Linked DNA regions of Homo sapiens: all the other regions are reported to be linked to region 5. The links are microRNA targets in miRTarBase. Many come from high-throughput screens and were not tested one by one. Region 5 holds a microRNA gene; each other region holds the end of a gene's coding sequence.

Region 1 (3,000 bases), not on the chromosome of region 5:
AAAATAGGAATAAAGGAGCAGATATATTTTCTTGACCTACTATATTCTCTGTATCAGTGTCATCTCCAGCATCCTTTTTGAGAAACTATTTGGAGATAAAGAAAAATTAAGATTCTTACTAAGCTGCAAGTGAAAATCACTAATATGCCCTTGATTTTACAATAACTGATGCATATAAGTCATTCCCATTTTTGTTTCTTAGTAATTTTAAAGTTAATTTTCTCAATTAAGCTAAGTATAAAGGAGTGTTAAGGTGAAATTGTAAAATATTCATTGTTGCATAATCTCATTAAACCTCAGCTGTTTACATTGTATTCTGTTTCTTCCTCAGTGAGAAAAAGAAAGAAAAGGAGCGTGAAGAATTGTGGAAAAAATTGGAGGATCTGGAGTTAAAGAGAGGTCTTAGACGTGATGGAATAATTCCAACTTAACAAAAACAATGACAACAACATTACTAACCTGTGGAGTCACACGTTTATGTAGTAGAAGATGGAGCAACAGTTTTCTGTATTGTGCAACTTTACAGTAGATTTCACCTTTGTTTCATTATTACAGCAGCACTGTATATACCTGTCTCTAAGTAAAGGAAAAAACAAAATAAGGACTTCAATCCAAAGTTTGGACAGTAGATGGACTTCTCAGAACTTTGCAAACATAATCATTGTTCTCACCCTCTTTTAAAAAAAAAAATCGGTCTTCAAAGATCTGTTGATGAAATTGCTATGTTAAAATTCCATTATCGGGAGTTCCTTATTTATCACTAGCAGAGAGTATGATACAATTTTCAAATGTGAACAATCTTAAATTTAGCTTGTCTTTCTGCTAAGCTGTTAAATGTATTTATAGTAAAGGAAGAAAAAAAGACTGTCATTTCCTTATAAGTTTGTGTAACATCCTCCTCTGGATAACTTGACTGTAATTTAACATCTTTTTCTTTTGCACATCTTCCTGAGTTGAATGTCCACGTGGAATGGGGTCATGAATTATAAAAGTCCCTGATAAAAGTTTTGTTTACTGGGGTGAACATCTTTCCAGTAACCAGGTAGTCCTGGTACTCCTTTAGTTTTAAAATTAGGAGTTAAGAGAGAAGAGGTGATAAACATAGTAGGGAAGGGAATATCGGATTCATGCATCAGTTTATGGTGAATCCAAATCAATGTCTTGAATCCTTTGAAAACAGGCACTGGGACATCACAGGCTTCAGTACCTGACCAGTATTAGTTGCATATATCATTGAACACACATACCAGAGATGTTTTAGAAATGTGAGAAAAACATCCTTTTGGACCATTTGAAATAAGAAAGACAAACACTAAACAATACAACCATGAAATTGATCACCGGGATTGCAAATCTAATTGGGAAAAGAGTTGAGCAAACAGCTTGGACTGTTTGGAGTTGTTGCCTTACTTTTTAATATGTATTTATAAAGTATTCCAGCAAAAGAGGATGTAGCCTCTGGGAAAAAACAAACATGTTACAGTGTTTTTTGTAGATTCTCGTTCTATATCTCATCACAGCGCCAGCCCTGTTTTTAGCCGGAAAGGATTCAGGATAAACATTATTATGCATTCTGAATTGGATGCATATTCCTAACTACTGTATTTGTTACCAAAAGTGGTTCTACAAATGCTACTGAAAAAAATCTGGAAATTCCTAATGTCCTGAGTATTAATAATAAAGTTTAAAAATGCTTTTATATCAAAGGTGCATCGTGACCAAATTGTTTAAGAAAAAAAAACAAAAAAAACAAAATCTAGGGCTGTATTTTATATATATATATATATATATATATATATATATATCTTATTGGCTCTCTGCTTTGTATTTAAATGAAGAATCTTACATCTTGGGTAGGTAAACTGCTGATAAAATTTGTGTACAGTATGTACTTACCTAATGCAGTTGCATTATTACGTACTGAAAGATATGTGTTTGGAGGTTTATTTCCAGGATGCATTTGCTTGTTTTGGTCATGGCAGCAGTGAGTTGGTAATCCTAAACCATCACTTCCAGCAGTATTCATGGTATAGAGCTGATCTGTGTTCATATGTTGAATTGTGATAGTAGCAAACATGAACATATGAACTATTGTTGCTCTTAATAGAAATACAATATAAATATGGGCTTGTATATTTTCTTCCTTACATTTAAATATAAAGTAGAATACGCAGTTTTATTATTTTCAAGAAAAAGAAAGAGAAGCTGCTGACCTTTCTCCCCCATAAAGTTTTTCAGGATGATCAGGTCACAGTGTGTACGTAAGAGTCAGCTAATTATGGATATTGTCATCTCGGTAACTTTGTAAAAAAACAAACAAAACTGGCATTGTTAATTCCAAAAAGAAAAAAAAAAGCAGTAAAAAAAAAAAGTCATATGCAACACCAGACGCAACATGGTTTAATGGAATTAATAGTTTTTTTTTTTTTTTTTTTAAAGAACATTGATGGGGATTCACTGTAAAGTTGGCAGAGGCTGCCAAAGACGAAACAACTGACTTTAAAAATGCTGGAACAATGTGATAAAAAATAAATTTGTAACAAATCTTCTCCTTTTTAGCCCTTGTCATTTTAGCCCTTTAGTTTCAACTCTGCATTATATTTAGTTTATATAGTGTAAACTTTTGTTTGCCATTAATTCATCTTTTTAGGTAGAAGACATTAAAATCACAGGTTTATGAAGAATCTCTGCTCATTGGAATGAAATGCAGTCATTTGAAATGAGAAAGGCCAGGATCCTTTTTTGTACCTTACCCTGTCTTCAAGAGTAAAGGTGAACACTTACAGCTCTCCTCCTTGATGTCAATTTTGTATGTTGATCATTCCAAACTGAGAAGAATAAAGCCACATTTTAGACATATTTATAGAATCAATTAAAGCTATATGTCTAAAATTCGTAGGGCAACTTCTGAGAAGAAACACCGTCTTTTTCTTTTTTAATGGAAAGTGACAATGTGACATTAGTCATGTTGTGTGCGGTGACGCAGAGTAACTGAGGTAA
Region 2 (3,437 bases), not on the chromosome of region 5:
CATCCTGACGAACGGCTTTCTAGGGCTGCTTTAGGTAATCACTGACTTAGCCTGGGTTCCCCATGAAGCAAACATAGGACAATAACTTCCAAAGAGGTTGACTGTAGTTAAGCAATTCCAGAGAGGAGAGAGGTACCAGGAAGAGCAAAACAGAAAATGATGGAAATGAAGGAAAGATAATGCAAAAATGTGTTACTAGTTGGCCACTGCTGTGGGTAATCAGGGTGGAATCCTTTTAAGAGAACTTCTGAGGAGCTGTGTGGAAGGGACCATAAATTGTTAAACTGAGGGATGTAACAGAGAAGTAGTTATCCATCAACTCCCACCCTCTTTGGTCAAGAGGTGCCCCATGGGGTGTTTTAGTCCCTTCACACATCCCGGGTAGTTCATGTGAGAGAATGGCTAAATGGGTTCCTGCAAGTGTTCCACACAGCAGAGGAAGCAGAGAAGCCCTAGGGGCAGGAAGTAAGACATACACAGTACAGCTGAGGCAACTGGCCAGTCAGTTCACTGTATGCAACTGATGGCTGGAGTAAAAAGTTAGGCTGAGAGGATAGGAGGTGGGTCAGAAGAGCTATCTAGGACCAGTGAAATAAATGCTGTAATAAAGCAATGTGTAAAATATTATGGAAATTTACATGGAAAAGAAGAGACAATCCTTAAGCTTTGAGGCATGAGAAAAGGGCTGAGGGCTTACTGTAATTGCTTTATCCACTTGCTACCCTTTCTTTTTCAATATCAGATTAATTATGCTCATTATCTTCTGTCCTCCAAAAGCCTAACATTTAAAAAAGGAGCAAAAGGAGGAGAAGGAGGGGAAATTAAATGTTTTTTTTCCTGTGGCAAAAAACCTTTTTAACGTTTAAAAAAAGTAGTTTGGAGCCAAAAATAAAAAGCACATTTCCCTTCAGACTGTGACTTACACTTTCCTGGAGCTGGGAAAAAGCATGAGAATGCACCTGAATAAATATGCACATTGTGTAATCTATTTAGGTGGTGAGAAGAGAGAATCTGCTTGACACTGCAGTGAACAATTCAAATCACAGCAAAGAAATGCATTTATGCATATTTTAAACAAAAGGATGATTATTCTTTCATGGTCCTGAAGTTGAAAAACAAATTTGAAATGGCTATTACAAACACCCACTCTCAAATAAAAGTTTCTTGGATACAAGTTTCTAGAATATATCATTTGTACCTGACTAATGGACAAGCTTTCCGAAATTCTGTAGTTGATATGCATGTTCCTTTCAAAAGAAAATGTTTATATAATGTATTTTTGCTTGCTTGGTATTGGAAGAAAAGGAAATGCCTTATCTAGATGAAAGAAAGTTAAGAGATGTTTAAAAAACATCTAAACAAATTTTAAAAAGATACACATTAGATTTGAGAAAGCTCACAAGCTACAACATTCAAATTCAGTATTTTATATTGTTGTGATTGTATCTATCATATTTGTGCTTCATTTTTATCCATATTATAAATAGTTATGATTTATATCTGAAACTGTGATTCACAGTGTTCGATTCGCTTCTAAAATCAAGATGCTCTAAAATATATCTTGTTTTTATTTTGATAGTTTTATATGCATTTATAAAATTATTCAGGTAATTTATAAATAAATCGTCCTAGGTTATTTAAAATATGCCATTCGTATCTAAAACAGGCAGATCGTTTCTATATCAAATTAATTAGTTGCTATTGTCAGTTTTAAGAATAATTTCTCAATTTATCTAAGATGCCTAACACTGCCACCATGATGTGTAGTCAGGATACTTAATAATACCTTTTGTAAAAGTTAGCATTTATCTTACACCAGCTCTCTTTTTAGATAGAGAACATATATAAGAAATGAGTAAGTCGATAAGCCACATTTAACCATCACTAGTGATTGTTCAATGGAAACATATAAACTCAATGTAAACTTGAAGTTAATTCCATTTAATTTACAGCTTATTTTATAATAGTATTTTATTAAGGAATTAATTTACATATAGTAAAATCACAAATCTAAACATACAGCATGAGGAATGTTGACAAATATATGCAGCTACATAACCATCATCCAGATCAAAATACAAAACATTTCAATCACCCCGGAAAATTTCCTCAGGCCCCTTTTCCATTCAATTTGAATTCCCTGCCCTCACTCTAAGCAGCCACTGTTCTGGTATCTATCATCAAATATTAGTTTTGCCTGGAAGTGGCTTTAATATAAAAGTAATTAGATAGTATGTTATGTTTGGTTTGTTTTGCTCAACTTAATGTTTTTGAGATTCATACAGGTTGTTGCATGTATCAGCAGTCCTTTTTTAAATGAACAGTATTCCACTGACTATATTGTAGTTTGTCTATCCATTTTCCTATGGATGGAAATTTCACTGTTTACAATTTTGTGCTATTATGAATAAAGCTGCTATGAGCAGTCATTTTTCTGGGGTATATATCTAGGAATGAAATGGTTGAATCACAAGGTAGTGCAAGACAGTCCTCTAGGTGGCCTTGGACAACCTCAATTGTTCCCCCTTTTTCACTTGTAGTTTTCAAGAATAACTGTACTGTGTGCTGGGAATGCAACATCCTGGACTAAGTGACTCTGAGAAACATTGTGACTTTACAGATGAAATCATCTACAAAGAATCATATATTTTCTTGTTAATCATATACAATTTGCCACAGATACTATATTTTCAGTGACTTCTATGAAGATATTTGTTGTTGAAATGTATGCATGACATCTTAAAAAATTGATATTTATTTTTTGTTTATCTTAAAAGGTATAGAGGAAAAAATGATCGGTATGGTTATCTATTACTCCTATATATCACATTTCTCTATTAGCCACAGGTCTGATTCCGGTTGTTTCCACTCTTCTCCAAGCAGTGTGTTAAAATTGAAAGACTTGAAGTATTCTAGGCAATGGCTAAAAGCAAAGAAAAAGAAGGTGGGAATTGAAATGAATTATGCATTTGTGAAATAGTTGTCCTGAAGGGCTATTTATTTTGTCACAACTGTAATACAACATTCTATTTTAAGCAATACTAAAGGTAAGATATATTTTATATGTACAGTTTTCTCACTCTAGCTGTCAAACACTCAGCTCTGAAAACATTCACCTGCATCTCAAAGCACTCTTCTTTCAATTCTGCAAATAACTCCCTCACAGCTGAAGGGAGAAATCAGTTCTCAAAACATAACTCATTCCATCCAGCTTTAAACAAATCATATTATGCTCTTGCATATGTTTTTATATTCAAACTTTGATATAATTTATATCAGTCATATAAGCAATTGTTTTGAAAAGTTTCAGTTCCATTGATAAGATAGACTTCTTAATTCCCTTCTCTGCTGAAGCAAGAGAGGTTAATGTAAAAGAGTATTAATCCCAGTTCTTTTCTTTCGAGGAAAACCACTTAACTACATTAAGAAGCTTTCTC
Region 3 (3,437 bases), not on the chromosome of region 5:
TTCAAAATAATTAAACATTTTAAATATGTAAACATAGTTTTCAAAAAGTGATGCTGAGCACCTTTAAACACAATACTGATACATTGTGACTAAACATGCATTTAGATGACAATGAATTTTTAAAATCTAATTTAGAAACCATTTTTAAAGAGCTACTCCTTGAAATACTTACATGAAAATATTGATAGCTCCAGTTTCTACCTAAAAACCAAAAGAGTATATAATTAGGGATTTAAACTTTTCTTCATGCTCTTGGTTTTTGTGGGGTTTTGTTTTATTGGTTTGTTTGTGGGAAAGTTGCTCTGTAACTTTCTGATTAAAAAACAGTATCAGAAGAGACATTCACACAGAATCAAGTGAGAAAAATATTATTTTTCTAACTATACCAAAGTCTGAGTCCTCTGACACATCTCATCCTCACAGGTAACTGACTAGAGTTTGTATATTAACAAGCATTTCTCCTTTGCAAATCAACATCAAAAAAGAAAGGAATGTCTCCAAAAGAATGTAGTTCAATTGGTGAAACAGCTAATAATAAACCATTACCACTATTACCACTATTGAGACGTAACGATTTATTATTTAGAATCTTGAAAGAAAAGGATTCCATAAAAACTAGAAATAACAAAAGAATATTACCTATAGTGCAACACTAAACTATAAATTAATTTGGACTTATTCCTTTTATGTACACACAGATTAAGAGAAATCTGGATTTGAGGTAATTAAGTGCTGTGTTTAACTTAGTGTAACATAATTAAATTTGGCAACCTGCCTGTATAAAATGCCAACATCAAATGTTTTAAATTCATAGGAAAAAGTAAAGTAATTTTTATTAAAAATCATACATATAACTAAATATTAGCTTTGCATTAAAAAGGGTATAAATAATAAACTTTATATTAAATAAAATATAAATCTAAAGAGCAGGGAATATTAGAATTCCACCTACCTCTACTATAACAGTACTTTATATTTAGATACATGTCATGTACCTGAAACCAAGTCAATTAAGAATGGGAGGCTGGACTTAGAAAAGCCAAAAGTGACTCATATTCATGTAAAGTATTAAGGTTAAATTTGATATTATATTGTGCATGTTTTGAATATTAAACATTGATATCCATTTAAAATCTTTATTTTTAAAATATAAAATATACCCACAAATGGTCTCTGGAGAAACAAAAGCCTTTAGGTTAATTTCCTGACAATTATAGTTGATATTTCTAGTTTACCAATCTTTTTTTTTTTTTTGAGATGGAGTTTTTCTCTTGTCACCCAGGCTGGAGTGCAATGGCGCGATCTCGGCTCATTGCAACCTCCGCCTCCGGTGTTCAAGCGATTCTCCTGCCTTAGCCTCCCAAGTAGCTGGGATTACAGGTGCCCACCACCACACCCAGCTAATTTTTGTATTTTTAGTAGAAACAGGGTTTCACCACGTTGGCCAGGCTGGTCTCGAACTCCTGACCTCAGGTTATCTACCCACCTCAGCCTCCCAAAGTATTGTGATTACAGGTGTGAGCCACCATGTCCAGCCTAGTACCAATCTTTAGACAACAGATGCTTATAATCAATATACTGCTTAGTAGTAATTTGGTATTTGAAGTTAATATACTTACTTAACAAAAAAATCCCAGATCAGATGTTTTAAAGTTTTAAATATAAACTAAATTTTAAACTATAAATACTTACCTTAAAATACTAGAAATCCTAATATCATCAATTCAGTAAGAGCTCTGGCATAGAAAAATGTAACTACAAATCAAATTATTTTTTAACCAGTGCTGGATCTTCATTACAAAATAAGGGGGAAAAAATCCTCTGCTGTCATCAAAAAGTTTTCCAAATTATCTGTAAACACCAAGGAATTCTATTATTCTTTTTCAATTCTCTTAATTTCTACATCTTTCTGCCTATAGTGTTTTACTTCCAATATAGCACAAATCCATGCTACATATGTTGATTTCTGTTGCTTATCTGATTAATTCAAGTAAAAATTCTCAGTACTTACCAAGACACTTTAAATTTCTATTAGATAACCATTAGTATACTACTGGTTTGTAGTTAAAAGTACAAAAATTGGAAGGGAAGAGGCTAAAATGCAACTGCACAGTTTCCACAGATGTAGCTGCTGGACTTTGTGTTATGATGTAAAATCTAATACTTCATCTTTCTTAATGAGATAGATTATAAACATTTTCTTACCTGTCTGGCAATTAACAATTTCTTCACAACTTTAAGGAGAGAACAAGTTCTTTTTCAGAACTTAAAAAAAAAATTCATGATATACATACACACATACAAACATACATTCACACAATGTTTTTGTTGCTGTTGTTCTTTTCTGTTTTGTAATAACCAAAATTGAATATTTCCAAGGATAAGTTAAGTAAACTATTTGTGTTCAGACTATATTACTGTGGATAAATTCAGAACAGCTTTTGAAATACTGGCCTTATTAGATAATCAAAGAGCATAAAAATTATACAAAATAAGAAGAGTAAAACATCTCTTAAGGAAGGTAAAAATATGGAACTGGCAACAAATATATCAGTTTTAAATAAAAGCTTCTCATCAAACTGGTCTTCAGTCCAATTATCTCAATGCCACGCTTTGACTATATTCACCTTCCTTTCTAAGACATCAGAAGTCACCAGAGTTGTAAATTCTGAAAAGCTTCAATAATTTATGTAGCAGATAATTTCTTATAGTCCACAGTTTTTTTTGCTTCCATAGACAATGCTGGTTCTTTGGGTTCTTGTTTAACTTGGCTCACAGAAATGGTACTTTCTGGATTTTCTTCAACTTTAAAAACAAACAGAAAAATCCTAAAAGTTAATCTATTTCATGACACTGGAAGAGAGGGGAAAAATATTTTATATTCTAAAAATAACTTCTGTGAAAACTTTTGTTCTTCAAAGCAAACTGCAAATCTTTTCCCACAAAAGTGCCCAATCCAGAACAATTCATGTGCAAAGAAGTAACAGATAAAGTAGGAGTTAACAGAGTTTACTTCTATGTTGACAGAGATTAGTAATAAAGTGAAGGTAAGAAGGTCTTGGGCTAAACCTAAATGCCCAAGTCTTACTAGTTCCCTTTCAACTCAACATTTATTTTGTAATTCCAAATCTTCCTTTTGGCCAGGTGCAGTGGCTCACTGCGTGAGGAGTGGGAGGCTGAGGTGGGAGGATTGCTTGAGCCCAGGAGTTCAAGACCAGCCTGCGCAACAGGCTGGTTTAAAAAAAAAAAATTAAAGAATTTGCCCAGTATGGTGGCATGTGCCTGTGGTCCCAGCTACTTGGGAAGCTGAGGTGGGAAGATCGCTTGAACCAAGGAGGTCAAGGCTGCAGTGACCTGTGATTGCATCATTGTACTCCAGCCTGGGTGACAGAATGAGACTCTGTCTCAAAACAACAAAAAACCAAAAATGAAAATCT
Region 4 (3,437 bases), not on the chromosome of region 5:
ATTTTTGTTGTTGATGTTTTCATTGGAAAAAAGTTTTTATATCCCTTCTCAACCCAGAAACATAGCCATATTCAAAAATTATTTTCTGACAAAGCTAATGAGAGTTTCTTTTGAAACCCTAAGAAAGATCAGAGGTTTAAAAGAGGTGCAGTTGACACTTGAAAGAACCACAGGCAGCCTAGAAACACATCCTGAAGATCACAGTTTAGGAAGCTAACACCTGAGAATGAATTCCTCATATTAACATGGCATCAGTGATTAGGGCACAAAACTCAAGGACACAGTGTTTTCCTTCCTGGCCATCTTGAAATCCCTAGTGATTTGCTGCCAGCATTTTTAGAAACATTTTTGTTCATGACTTATACATGACTATTAGATTATATTTTAATTTCTTGAGGGCAAGACACTGAGACTTCTTGTAAACCACATCCTGCCTAGAGCCCTGGGCAGGTGGCAGGTACTCTCTAAAACAGTGATCAACATCCATGAAGCCATTTCCAGTAGAACACTGTGGGCTAAATTATTTTCACTGAGAAGATTATAATCATTTATAGAGAACTTAGAATTACATCACAATAGGTGATGCCTACTGGTATTTCTTAATCCTAATTTGCCTCTTTGCTTCTTTTTTTGTCTTTCTAGGAACTTCTAGAAGATTCTATGTTTACACTATGTTTCCAATAACAGTATAGTTCCTCAGAACCCTAGTCCTGTGCATTGTGCCACAGACAGCAGTTTTGTGGTGAAATTATGAAATACTGTATAACATTTTCCTTCTGTCAGGGTTACAATACAAGCTAAGATTTTAAAAACTCCTCTAAAAGAAAAACCTGCATTAAAGTGACTCCTTTGACGTTCTTTAACCCAGCATCTCCCAAACTTACTTTCTTCAGAACTCTTTTTTAGTGTAAAGATGTCTATTTTTAAAAAATGTATAAGATGCCATCTATTTTAAGACATGTCATTTATGTGCCACCAGGAAAGAAAAACATGAACAATATGCCTTTATTTTTAAGACTCATTTAAAAGATACTGTCGACAAAACACAAACTTTAGGAAATACAACTTTACACTATAAAATAAAATGGAGCCATATATTCTAGAAATAAAATGTTAAAATTAAAATCATTTAAATCATCTTACCCAATTTAGTAATTTCAGTACTAGATTATAGATTCTTTTATACATTTTCAGAAACTGTGAGCTGTGATATAAATGGATTATATCACAGTCCTTTGAGTTGTGATATAAATGGATTATATCACAGTCCTTTGAGCTGTGATGTAAATGTATTTAATGGTATGCTGTCATACCACCACACACATTTTCAGATCACAGTTATAACTTCAAAGATCATAATTCTAGCTATCTGTGACTTTTCAAGTGTATACTGTAAGCTTCAAGGCCTCTGCATTAGGAGAGGGCACTTCAAAGAAAACACCAGGGTCTACAGGATCCACACCAATCTATGCTCATTGATGACCCATGATAAACTTCATTACTGATAATACTCCTTTAATTCTCCTCATGACGTTTGCATGTGGGGTTTCCAAGCAAGGTTACCTACTCCAGGCAGGATCCGTATCTTCCATTTCTCTGTATCTCCCCACAGTGTCCACTTTGTATAAGAGTAAGTTTATTACTTTTAATGGGAAAAACCGCAACTAGTTTTGCACCAACCTAATATAAATGTTAGTTATTATTATGGGAAAATCTTTCTCCATGTCATAGCCAAGGGGAAGCATCTATCTGTAAAATCATATTATATTACTGTGGTTGTTAGCAAACCATTCCTTCAATTGCCTATTAGTAAAGATTTTTATTTTTTAGGACCAATGATACAATTTTAGCTAGAAGTTAGATCAGAAAAGCCACAGTAAATTTTCTAGTGCCATAAAGTAAATCATTTTAATAATTAAGATACATAAATAGTTTATGATAGAAACAATAAAGTTGTCTCAACTCTGCACAAACATTGAATTTCCAAGTAATTTGTAAGGAATATATTCATCTTATTACATTCAAAATCTTGGTTGAACAATGACGATTATAAAGTTTTCTGAATGATGTTTTTTATAGTCTGAATTCACACAGTATTACATTAATTTATAGTATTACAGTGCTTGGTAATTTGAAGAAATGAAATAAAATTATTCTAATGGTATGCAGGAAATAAAAATAAAATAAAGTCATTTGCATAACTTTTTATAAAAACAACAAAATATTTTTCTGTAAAAATAAATTAGGTTTTTTATACTGAAATGTTCTTCTAGTAAAGTGTTTAGAAAATAGTTACATTCATTGTGGGCAGTGTGCTCAAACATTCTTATTTGCCATTCCCTCACGCATGGTAAAATGAGGTGCAAGCTGTTCACATGTGAGAAAAACAGCTTTTCACAGGAAAAGAAACATATATATATATATAAAATAGAATTAATTAAAAAACCCAAGTGTCATATGACAGACATACAAAAATTCACCAAGAAAATATATTCTTCAAGGCCTTTGAGGTGACACAATCTTTGACTGTAATTTATCAAAGGTAGTTTTAATCATGCTACCCTGTAACTTCCATCAAATTAGCATGCTTGCGGATGGTATACCCTGTAACTTCCATCAAATTAGCATGCTTGCGGATGGTAGGTTATTGTTCTCCTCCTATAATTCAAAGCAGTGTTTGGTCAGTTGACTGAAGCACAGCAGTGGAACTCAGGACTCACCACGTTTTCTAAAGGAGCAAGAGAAATAAACATCTCCACTCTCTCTAAGTGTGGCTTGCAAGAGTAGCACCTTGGCACTGAGCAGGACAGTTTTCAGTGTGGCGGCCAGGTGGCAGAAGTCTCTGGAGTGGCACAGCATGAAAACAAGCCTGACGCTTAGGCCAGCGATATTATCGAGCCAAATTTGCTGGTTTACCTAGGAAACAGATGAAAGATAAGAACTGATTAAAGTTTAACCAAACAGGAAATATTTGTGCTTATCCACAAGTAACACCTGAATGGCAAGTTGAACCTGAGACTGCTTTCTGCTGTTTCTTCTTCTTTTTTTTGCTTTTCTTTTGCTTTTTCTCAGCCTGATTTTTGCTTGGCTTCTTTTTCTTGGTTTCCTCTTTATACCATGGTCCCCAGACCCCTCCATTGAGCCTAGGGTTACTTCTGGGGTCTTTGGGGGGATACCTGACCGGCACTGCAGTTTTGTTGAACTGTGAGAGCCTCCGTAGGAGCTTCTTCACGATTCCTGGATACCTGTTAGATAGGTCCACCCTCTCATATGGGTCGGCTGTGATGTTGAAAAGCCATACACTTTTGCCAGTTGACAAGGTGATCCGTTCATTGTGCCACCGGTTCGGTCCCAGGTTGCTGAAAGACTGAGGGGGGACCCAGTCGCTGTAGCCAGGATTTCCTGTAAGCAATTTCCAGTGCTGCACTCTGATGGCT
Region 5 (3,437 bases):
CCCATAACTCCTGGTAGTAACCTCAAGAAGAGTTAGGGCTTATTCTGATAAAAATACAAGAACAAAAAATAAAAGCATTTTACAAAATATTGTCTCAAGGATAAATTACCAATTAGAATATGAAAAGGACTTCTAAAAAGACTGAAATGTCTTCAACCACAAATGTGACAGATTCATGAAACATTTGCTGAACATCAGCCATGTACAGAGCGCTATACTAAAAGAATATAAAAGCTGTTTGAAATATACCATATAAATATGATGTCTGCTATAAACTAATATTGACATTGTATCTTTCCAACCTTTTTAGACACATCTTGTTTCAATTCTTGTACAGGGGACTCATTTCCAACTTTGTATGCAGTGTTCTCTGTTTCCTGTTTGAAAAAGAAAAGAAATAGAGACCAAATGATGACATCTTTTCTTTAAAAATATGCTTTAAAGGGGTACAAATGAGAAAATGTAGCATTAATAAATCAAAGGCCCTTAAAGGGCTTTGATTTCTTCTTCTTCTTTTTTTTTTTTTTTTTTTTTTGAGACAGAGTTTTACTCTGTCACCCAGGCTGGAGTGCAGTGGCACAATCCTGGCTCACTGCAACCTCTGCTTCCCGGGTTCAAGTGATTCTCCTGCCTCAGCCTCCCGAGTAGCTGGGATTATAGGCGCGTGCCACCACACCTGGCTAATTTTTGTAATTTTAGTACAGACAGAGTTTCACCTTGTTGGCCAGGCTGGTCTTGAACTCCTGACCTCAAGTGATCTACCCACCTCAGCCTCCCAAAGTGCTGGGATTATAGGTGTGAGCCACTGTGCCCAGCCTAAAGGGCTTAGATTTCTGAATACTGATAGATGCTCAGAAATTTTATGCCAAATGGGACAATGTAATTTGCATAAGAAAGTTACCCATCAGCAATATTCTATTATTCTGCAATAGGATATTTACCTTTAAATGTGAAAACTTGCTCAACTTTTTAACATTAAAAAACTGTAATGGACGATAAGAACTTCTACGTACTTTTATAGCTAAAAAGGATTAAGGATTTAAGCAAGGGGCTGAATAAAAATTGTTATTTTCCCCAAAGCATTGCTCCATAAATATGCACAAATACAAAAGTTTATAACACAGAAAACCACATTCAGGGAATAGTTTTCTTAAAATTCTACATGCTTTAGATAAAAGAAATCAAGACTTAACCAGAAGTTAAATGAAGCCCCTAAAAAAACTATGAAAAAAGATGAAAAAAATTAAACCCACCAAAAATACATATATATCTACGTATACATTTATATACACATACGTACATATATATATATATTTGGGAGGTTAGAAATGGATACTGCATTTCTGCTGGAAAAAATTAGGGTAAAATAAGACAATCATATATTTGCAAATCTCAATACAATACTCTTCTCAATCTTAAGTTGTCTATTTATAGAAGCACAGCAATTTGAATGCTACTCTTGATACTGAGGAAAAAAAACCATAATTCTTTGTGCACATCACAGAGTTTGTTAGAGGAAGGTCATTATAACCATTTTAGACAGATAAAGGACTCAAGGCACATTAATTATTTAGGTGGCACTTATACAAGTATCAGGATATGATCACAATAGGCTCAATAATGAAATTACTCCAGAGATTATTAAAATGTTAAAGATTTAACGTGCCAGTGAAATTTCTGTAGGACTTGCAATATCTTCGAGCACTGAATTCCTCCCCCAGAATTTGGAGAATACTACCAATCTTACACAGATTCTTCTAGAAAAAAAAAAATGTTTCATGGACTCTTAAGTATTAGATAAAATCCAAACAGTACCAAGGCCCATGAAGGCCTAAACATGACATAGCCTCTGCCTACATTTTTGATATCTTCTACACTCCTCATCTCCCTCTCATATCACTCCCCCACAATTACATTCTGGCCAATAGGATGATTCCTTGCCATTAGGGTCATAGCTCAAGTGCTATTTTATCAGAAAATACTTCCCTGACCATCTCAAAATAGCCTTAGCTGACTCCTTAACTTTCTATCACATTATCCTATTTTTCTTTTTTTTTTTAACTTTAAGTTCAGGGGTACATGTGCAGATTTGTTACACAGGTAAACTTGTGTCATGGGGTTTTGTTGCACAGATTATTTCATCACCCAGGTATTAAGCCTAGTACACATTAGTCATTTTTCCTGATCCTCTCCCTCCTCCCACCCTTCACCCTCTGATAGGCCTCAACATGTGTTGTTCCCCTCTATGGGTTCATGTGTCCACATCATTTAGCTCCCACCTATAAGTGAGAACATGCAGTATTTGGTTTTCTGTTCCTGCATTGATTTGCTAAGGATAATGGCCTCCAGCTCCATCCATGGCCCTGCAAAGGACATGATCTCGTTCTTTTTTATGGCTGCATAGTATTCCATGGTGTATATGTACTACATTTTCTTTATCCAGTCTATCATTGATGGGCATTTAGGTTGATTTCATGTCTTTGCTATTGTGAATAGTGCTGCAATGAACATGTGTGTGCATGTGTCTTTATAATAGAATGATTTATATTCCTTTGGGTATATACCCAGTAATGGGATTGAGGAGAGGATGTCAAACTATCCCTGTTTGCAGACAACATGATCTTATATCTAGATAACCCATAGTCTCAGCCCAAAAGATTCTTAAGCTGATAAACAACTTCAACAAAGTCTCAGGATACAAAATAAATGTGCAAAAATCACTAGCATTATTATACACTAATAACAGCCAAGCAGAGAGCCAAATCAGGAATAAACTCCCATCATTTGCAATTGCCACGAAAAGAAAATACCTATGAATACAGCTAACTAGGGAGGTGAAAGGAGAACTACAAACCACTGCTCAAAGAAACCAGAGATGACACAAACAAATGGAAAAACATTCCAAGCTCATGGATAGGAAGAATCAATATCGTTAAAATGGCCACACTGCCCAAGGCAATGTATAGACTTAATGCCATTACTATTAAACTACCACTGAGATTCTTCACAGAACTAGGAAATTTTATTTTAAAATTCATAGGGAACCAAAAAAGAGCCTGAATAGCCAAGGCAAATCCTAAGCAAAAAGAACAAAGCTGGAGGCATCATGCTACCCGACTTCAAACTATGCTACAGTGCTACAGTTACCAAACAGCATGGTACTGGTACAAAAAGAGACACACAGACCAATAGAACAGAATAGAGAATACAGAAATAAGACCGCACACCTACAACTATCTGATCTTCGACAAACCTGATGAAAACAAAGAATGGGGAAAGGCTTCCCTACTCAATAAATGGTGCTGGGAAAACATTATCCTATTTTCCTTCATTGCACTTATCGTTCGAAATGACCTTATTTACTTGCTTATTTTTTGTCTCTTCCCTGTCCCACTAGAATGTAAGCTCCATGAGAGATGGACCTTGTTTGTTCTATC
Region 6 (3,437 bases), not on the chromosome of region 5:
AGCCTTGAAGTTTAGACTACCATGTTAAAAAACTAAGCTGATAGGTTTTAGCATCAGGCCAAATTAAAAACAGTACAAAGAGACTCATGTTATGTTTTATTAGCAATGAATTGTCACAATATTCCTAATTAGTGAAGGCTGAGGCAAAGCATACTGCCACTATAATACCATAGAGAGGTGGTAATAATGTGATGCTGTTTACACATGCAGTTCACATTATTGTACTTCATTGAAAAAAATGTGTACAATCTTTTGATTATTAGGGAATTTGTATGTAGTATGTGAAAGAGATGGTACTATCACAACAGAAATTGCAAGAGTAAAATCTTTACTTTGAAATTTTTTTCTTACAGAGAGATTTAGAGACTCATAGTTGCATGGAGTGTGGTTATAAGATCTTAGTTCTAGGTCCTAGCCAGTCCTTGGCAAATTCCAAGGCTTACTGAGTCTGTTTCCTCATCTGTAGAATGAATATAATAATAATTATAATGACAGTAATACTAAAATTATCATCACCATCGTTATTATATGGGTTATATATATAATTTATTATTATTATGATTGTCGATAGGATCAAATGAAAAAACAGATGTAAAAGGACTTTGTAAATCATCAAGTGCTACAAATGTTAGTATTAGCATTTTGCCTTTCCTGTAAATTACTTATTTTTACAAGAAGAAGTGAATTCTCATGTTACTATAGGATTTAGAGTTGATGATGTGTAAAGCAAACTCAAAGCAACATTTCTCAGCAGTGTGGAATACTTCTAAAGTTGCATTATTGTTGAATACATAGAGAACCTATCTTCAGTAGGCAAGGCTATTCCTTCATACAGAAAAAATATATAAAGACCATCTGACACACTGTTGATGGACACTTTTAAGTGTAAGAAATTAATTAAGATAATATTTGGCTGTAATACTTTGCATTTGAAATTTTGTAGACAATTCATTTTCAAGAGGATGTGATATTTTTGGGAGATTACCTATACTGAACAATAGTGGATGTTAGAATTATTTTGCAAATTTAACTTTATAATATCATATTCTATAAAAGTTCTGCATATTAATTATAGGAATTGGTTTTTCTAATTTGATCATTTAAGCGTAGAAAGATTTGTTTGGAAATTGTGAAATGTCTTTATACTATATTTTGTGTATTCTAAAAGACAAAATAACTCAAGAAAAGTTCATCTGCTTTCAACATTAAACCGAAAATTCAAATTTACTTGTGATTTATTTTAAGTGAGATCAGGAATGGACTACTTTGTGACAAAAATTGTTTCTCTTTACTTACCTGCACCTCCCAGATGACTTTAAAGATAATGTTTCTTCACATAGGGAGCTGTTACACGTTTCAAATAGAGCCCAGAGACAAGACTCCATGCATGACCAAATCATTACATATTTCTCTATTATAGAGTCATTGGTCTATGAGAGGATATAATTCTCTTTAGGACTATAGAGCAAATTAAATCAGTTTATTTTTAACCCCTGTTGTCCCTTATTTTCTAATTCTCATAGTTAAAAAAGTTACTTTAATGGATACAGATTTAATAAGGAAGAAATAGAGTTTGTTAGCATTATGATTCTTTTGTGATCTATGACAAAGTAGCTTACATTTTCCTGTGGAGTAAAAAAAAATTGAAATGGATAATCTGCTATGGTATATGAAAGAATGGTACAATAAATTGTCCTGAATGTACTTATCCTGTAAATAGGCAATGGTAGATAATTTAGCTCAATCTTAAAGATGAATTAAAAACGTATAGACTTAGAAAAAATTTTACTTCCCTACAAAATTTTTGCTAATTAAATCTCTACTTGTCTATTTCATCCTGTTCCAGGCACAGTCATTTCCTCTTGGTCTTTCGTCTGTCTAATCTAAAAATATGAAAGTATTTTGCCTATAACTAATTACATAAAAATCTCAGTTCTATTCATAACTTCATATGACTGCTATGCTGTAACTATCTTATTTCTGGAATAAAATAAAAAGCAGGTAACCTTAACCAAATGGCAAGTTTACTTTTTTCTAAATTCTTATATTTCTACATTACAATTGTATTGAATATTATATATTAGATCCTCCTCCTCCACAATAAAAATCAAATGGCAATTAAAAAAAGATAAACAATAAGAATACTTAATAGGTTTGATGGTCTCTTTTAAGACAGAGGCATGCTAATTTTCAAGCAAAAATGACAGAGACTTATAGCTTAAGTAGAATTCAGATAATTATTCAGACCCAATATTAAAAAATACTGACAATGTGAATTTATAAGTACACATTAACAGTCTCCTCTTTTTATTGAAAACAGTTTGCATTATTTGTAGTGAAACAAAAATCATGCCTTGATGAATGTAATTTTAATATATCCATCTCTTATTAAACAAATTATACATTTAATTCTTGGCACCTATATTTAATATCTTTTATACTAACAAAGATTACATACACGCATTGAAGGAAGACTACACACTCATGTCTAAGCCTCTCTCATCAGTTAAGAAATATACCCTATATTGAAAAATGCATGTATTTGAAGTTTTGACCTAACACAGTGGATTAAAGCTTAGACAATATTTACTTTGCCGCACTTTGATTCAGAAAGGGCCATATGTGAAGATATGATCCTAACCAACTTTAACATGTTTCTATAATGATCTCTCAGTAAAAAGATTTATATTAAAGATATTGAGATATAAAATAGTTACAAAATAAGCTGTAACCTTATAGCTACCCATTGGTAAAAGTCTATAGTTAATATATTTGGATAAATAACTCAAGTCAGCAGCAAAGTGGTTAAACATTTGTGATTTGATTTTATCTCAGCTTGGAATGTGGTTGGAGTGTCCCACTTCTAACAACTGTTTGCTAAGTTAAGGCTTTGGTGTTTACACAGTGTTGAATGAAGCAGCCTGGTCACCAGATGTGATCGCTTCCCCAGACTGTCGTTTTTTTTCAATCAGATCACTGTCCTCATGGTCCCGGTTCCAACCTTCTTCCTCAGTACATCCACCAGCCTTTCCAACCTAAGTTGGGGTTGGGATGGGGGTGAGAAGGGGAAAAAAAGGGCAATTATTGTTAAGAATGTCCTGGCTGATAAAGGACAGTATTTGCCTGTGACCAAGCAGTCCTCACGGTCATGTTAAGAAACAAAGCATTACTGTGAGAGACACTGCTACAGAGTGCCAAGTATTTGAGGTTAAAAAACCCAGCAACGACACAAACTTTAACCCAGATCCTTGAATTATGTCAGCATTAGATGCCACACAAAATTTATAGGACACTTATTTCAATACATTTAGCTACTTGCATTAAGGTTGTGAATGAATCATTTACTATGCAATGACAGGATCACATATTAAATGTAGAATAAACTGATTTTACCTAAGAAAAGCACATATTTCAAAACACAAATATCAGCAATGTTT
Region 7 (3,413 bases), not on the chromosome of region 5:
ACTAAAAATCTGGTCACGGATAAAAGCATGTGCCTTTTCATTCTTCTCTGGGATGTTACAACAGCAACACGCTCTAAAACAATTAAGTTACATGCATAATGCTAAAAGAATGTGAGCAATCCTATAACCAGCTTTAAGCCATCTGCTTGATTTCTTTTTTTTTTTTTTTTGTAAGGAACATATATAGGAAAAGAGAATTCCCCTTTTGTTCCATTACATATAGAAACCTTTTGAAGCTTCCAAATAGCTTGGTTTTGGTAAAATTCACCACTCTTTTATTACTTTGACATGTAGTCATCCTAAACTATCCGTCATGGTTTCTCCAAAAATCTCCACATGAATTATCTGAAGGACAATTGAAACCACTTACCAATATACAAGTAACGTTTTATTTTATATTCTATCTTCCATTTGGCATAAGCCTTTCGATGTTTGTTTTTTAAACCAGTGAAATATACAAATCACGCAAGACAGAAATATGTACATTAAAAGTACAGAATAAAGGCTAGAAGATATACATAATATCTGAATGACATGTAGAATATTTTACATTAAATAGTTTCTTTTAAAAGCTAGGATTGTTAAACTCAACTCTCTTCATAAACATGAGTCACTAAAAAGGAACAATCTGATTTAGCAAATAAAAAAAGTACTTCATGGTTTTTGTATAATAAAAACCAAAAAAGTGACATTTTAAACTAATTAGTGCTTTTTGCTTTCAAGATCTTTTGCTCACAATTCACTGCAACTGAGGGGATGTGAATATCATTATGCAATAAATTAAGAGCCACAGTTGGCTGAGGTGATATGAAAGCCAACCTGCCTAAGGGGGGTATGAAAGATGTGTATCTTTCCAAACTTTTAAAACAACGTAAGTCTGAGATAAGAACATATTTGATGGCACTGTTTGGAAAGAGGTGTCCTTATTAAAAAAAAAAAAAAAAAAGCTATCTATGTAGTGGGCTGAATATTCCTTAGGGACTCAATTAATAAGTACTGTCATTTCTAATAGGCATGGGTTTCCATTCTGCAGAATGAACTAAGAAAAGAGAAACATTGCTGATGCTTCTGAGTTTTGAATATCTCTTAACGTCCATGTCTATAACGAACAAGTAATGCCCTCTCCACAAAGTGAACAGAAATGGAGGTTGGAGACAAAGGGGTGAGGCAGAAAAGAAAAAAGATATCTTCAACCCAACACGCATTTCAGTGAGTCAGAACTCAAGCTTCCTCAGAAACAAGGTTGCTTCGTCGTGCTCAAGGTATGATCACAGCAGGGCCACAGCCCAAGCTCAAGACTCAAAAAACTTTTGGAATAATCCCAACTGGACTGCAGTGAAGGACAACAATGCTCTAGACAGAGAAATAACCCCAGAGTAAACTGTAAATCTAAATCACTGGCTGCAATGAGATATATTTATATTTATATTTATATATATGTATATATATATATATGTTATGTACAAAAGACTTTGAGATATCAGGCACCATTAAACCACATTTCCCCCCTTATAAATGCAACTGTTCAAGTACACTGGGAACAGTTTTAAGGTACACCTGCAGTACAATAGGAGAAGCATGAGTGGATAATCTAAACACAGGATCATAACAGTGATACGCTGCAACACCTCTGTGAATTCCATTAGCCAAGTTCTGTCATTAAAACATAGAAAACTACTGCTCCTCAAAATAAAAGTTTTAGGAAACAAAAATCCCTAAGTAGTGAACTGTTTTCCAAGCAGAGCTCCTAATGTTTCATTTCCTGTCCTACAACCAAAGGGGACCCAGTGGAGCTGCCGTTTGGAAACGTGGCCAGCATCACATCACAACACGGAGGAATCAGAGAGGGCTCAGTGTGAAGAGGAAGGTGGATTTCACTGTTTTTCCTCAAATAGGTTGTCTGCTCTGGTGCAGTGCTGAATGGCACGCAATTACCTTGTTGCTTGGGCTGAGAACCTGTGAATGGGATTCATGTATTATTTTTACTATTATAATTTACTAACCAAGTATCCCTAAGAAAATAACAGGATATTTTCATTTATGTTCAAGCCAACCTCCCCAAACAAAAAAATCTAGTGTCCAGAATCATTTGGGGATCTTTTTACAATCTGGAATCCTAATTCTTATAACAGCTTCAAATCAACATCTTGACATAAGAGTTTTAAATTTTTTAATTTCTGGGGACTTTCCTCCCTGCTGCCCAAATTTCATGAGCTATTAGAATATGACGGTCTGTCTGCAAATGGAATATTTGAGGAGAATGAGACATGTGATATACCTTTTTTCCTTGAGAATATGACATTCTTGTCCTTCCATTGTAAATTATCATTTTGAAAATGCAGAAAGCAAGCTAGCAGCCCTGCTGGGGAAGGGAGGTTTGTTTTGTTTTGTTTTGTTTTCCCAAGACCTTTTATCTTGCACCAGAGAATTTACAACTCATTTTGGTCATAGAAGCTGAATTGTGAATAGATTTCTACCACCCTCTTTCAACTGGAACCTACCCATCCCATATGATGGCATATTTGAGAAAAAGAAAATGTATTTCTTTACCTTCTGGATGTGTACCATGTCCACACAGCTAAGTTAGGGTATGTGTTATTTCCCCTTCATTCTATACTATCAAAAGAAGTCTTGTATTACCTTTTCAAAGATCCACAAAATAAATATTTTTCTTGGTTCCCACCCCCATTATTGCCAAATAATAATTATAATATTAATAATAAACCACAGAGTTCTTAGATGGTAACAGGAAAAAAAATGGTTCCGGTTGCAATTCTTGGGGAAAAATAAAAAATATTTCTAAAAACCAAAAACCAGAATCACTGTACTTTCTATAAATAAGCGGGTCCTGGGAGCGGGGCTGAGTGCTGGGTGGCACCCACTACTTGCACACAAACTGGTCCACGATCTCCGTGCACTTCTTGCACTTGACGTAGCAGCACCAGTGGAACTTGCAGTGGCAGCGCTCCGTCTGCACGGTCTTGAACTGGTCGTAGCCACGGCCGCAGCACATGAGCTCGCAGCCATCCATGCCCTCCGACGTCTTGTTGCACAGGCGGCCCTGCGTGCCCAGCGAGCCGGTGCTCTCATTGCGCACGCAGTAGTCAGGGCTGGGGTCGATGTAGACCAGGTCTTGTGTGGTGGGCGAGTTGAAGCGGCTGTTGACCTGTACCAACTTGCCCCGGCTGTTGAGCCGCATGGCCGCCGCGCTGTCGTACTTCTCCTTCAGGGCATCACCCACCTTGCGGAAGTCTGCCAGCTGCAGCCAGCATGTCTTCAGGCTACATGAGCCGGACACCCCATGGCACTTGCAGGCCACATCAGCCAGGTTGTACACCGTCTGCAGGGAAATGGGGGCAATCAATACACACATTCATGGAGGAGCCAGATGCAGGCTATAGGAACAAAGTTCT

The links. Region 5 holds the annotated microRNA hsa-miR-1277-5p (AAAUAUAUAUAUAUAUGUACGUAU, at 1,293-1,316, opposite strand). A microRNA usually pairs through its seed, bases 2 to 8, with sites in the 3' UTR of a target mRNA and lowers its output. Matches are read on the target gene's strand: a 7mer-m8 pairs with bases 2 to 8, a 7mer-A1 pairs with bases 2 to 7 and ends in A, and an 8mer does both.
Region 1: miRTarBase lists PPP2R5E as a target of hsa-miR-1277-5p. The part of its 3' UTR that is shown has no 7-base or 8-base seed match.
Region 2: miRTarBase lists C4orf33 as a target of hsa-miR-1277-5p. Seed matches in the 3' UTR shown: 7mer-A1 at 2,211-2,217, 7mer-m8 at 2,040-2,046, 7mer-m8 at 1,554-1,560 and 7mer-m8 at 1,183-1,189.
Region 3: miRTarBase lists CARF as a target of hsa-miR-1277-5p. Seed matches in the 3' UTR shown: 7mer-m8 at 2,545-2,551 and 7mer-A1 at 1,608-1,614.
Region 4: the mRNA of ARSJ is a reported target of hsa-miR-1277-5p. Seed matches in the 3' UTR shown: 7mer-m8 at 2,487-2,493, 7mer-m8 at 2,001-2,007 and 7mer-A1 at 1,682-1,688.
Region 6: miRTarBase lists MIPOL1 as a target of hsa-miR-1277-5p. Seed matches in the 3' UTR shown: 8mer at 2,765-2,772, 8mer at 2,371-2,378 and 7mer-m8 at 840-846.
Region 7: miRTarBase lists WNT5A as a target of hsa-miR-1277-5p. The part of its 3' UTR that is shown has no 7-base or 8-base seed match.

The regions. Positions count from the first base shown.
Region 1 is chr14:63,373,440-63,376,439 of GRCh38, reverse strand. It overlaps PPP2R5E (protein phosphatase 2 regulatory subunit B'epsilon), which reads left to right. Exons shown (of 14, transcript NM_006246.5): 14 at 332-3,000. The coding sequence ends at 431. Among named protein-coding and RNA genes, the nearest start is that of GPHB5, 56 kb to the right of the region's middle.
Region 2 is chr4:129,111,172-129,114,608 of GRCh38, reverse strand. C4orf33 (chromosome 4 open reading frame 33) reads right to left here. Exons shown (of 6, transcript NM_001099783.2): 6 at 1-2,923. The coding sequence ends at 2,818. Among named protein-coding and RNA genes, the nearest start is that of C4orf33, 17 kb to the right of the region's middle.
Region 3 is chr2:202,982,874-202,986,310 of GRCh38, reverse strand. CARF (calcium responsive transcription factor) reads right to left here. Exons shown (of 17, transcript NM_024744.17): 17 at 1-2,805. The coding sequence ends at 2,687. Among named protein-coding and RNA genes, the nearest start is that of NBEAL1, 30 kb to the left of the region's middle.
Region 4 is chr4:113,899,297-113,902,733 of GRCh38, forward strand. It overlaps ARSJ (arylsulfatase family member J), which reads right to left. Exons shown (of 2, transcript NM_024590.4): 2 at 988-3,437. The coding sequence ends at 2,978. Among named protein-coding and RNA genes, the nearest start is that of ARSJ, 79 kb to the right of the region's middle.
Region 5 is chrX:118,384,280-118,387,716 of GRCh38, reverse strand. It overlaps MIR1277 (microRNA 1277), which reads right to left and starts at 1,323; the gene lies at 1,246-1,323. WDR44 (WD repeat domain 44) reads right to left here. Exons shown (of 20, transcript NM_019045.5): 3 at 303-377.
Region 6 is chr14:37,546,503-37,549,939 of GRCh38, reverse strand. MIPOL1 (mirror-image polydactyly 1) reads right to left here. Exons shown (of 13, transcript NM_001388067.1): 13 at 1-3,035. The coding sequence ends at 2,969. Among named protein-coding and RNA genes, the nearest start is that of FOXA1, 47 kb to the left of the region's middle. RefSeq lists a silencer at 2,802-3,096.
Region 7 is chr3:55,467,211-55,470,623 of GRCh38, forward strand. It overlaps WNT5A (Wnt family member 5A), which reads right to left. Exons shown (of 5, transcript NM_003392.7): 5 at 1-3,340. The coding sequence ends at 2,882. Among named protein-coding and RNA genes, the nearest start is that of WNT5A, 18 kb to the right of the region's middle.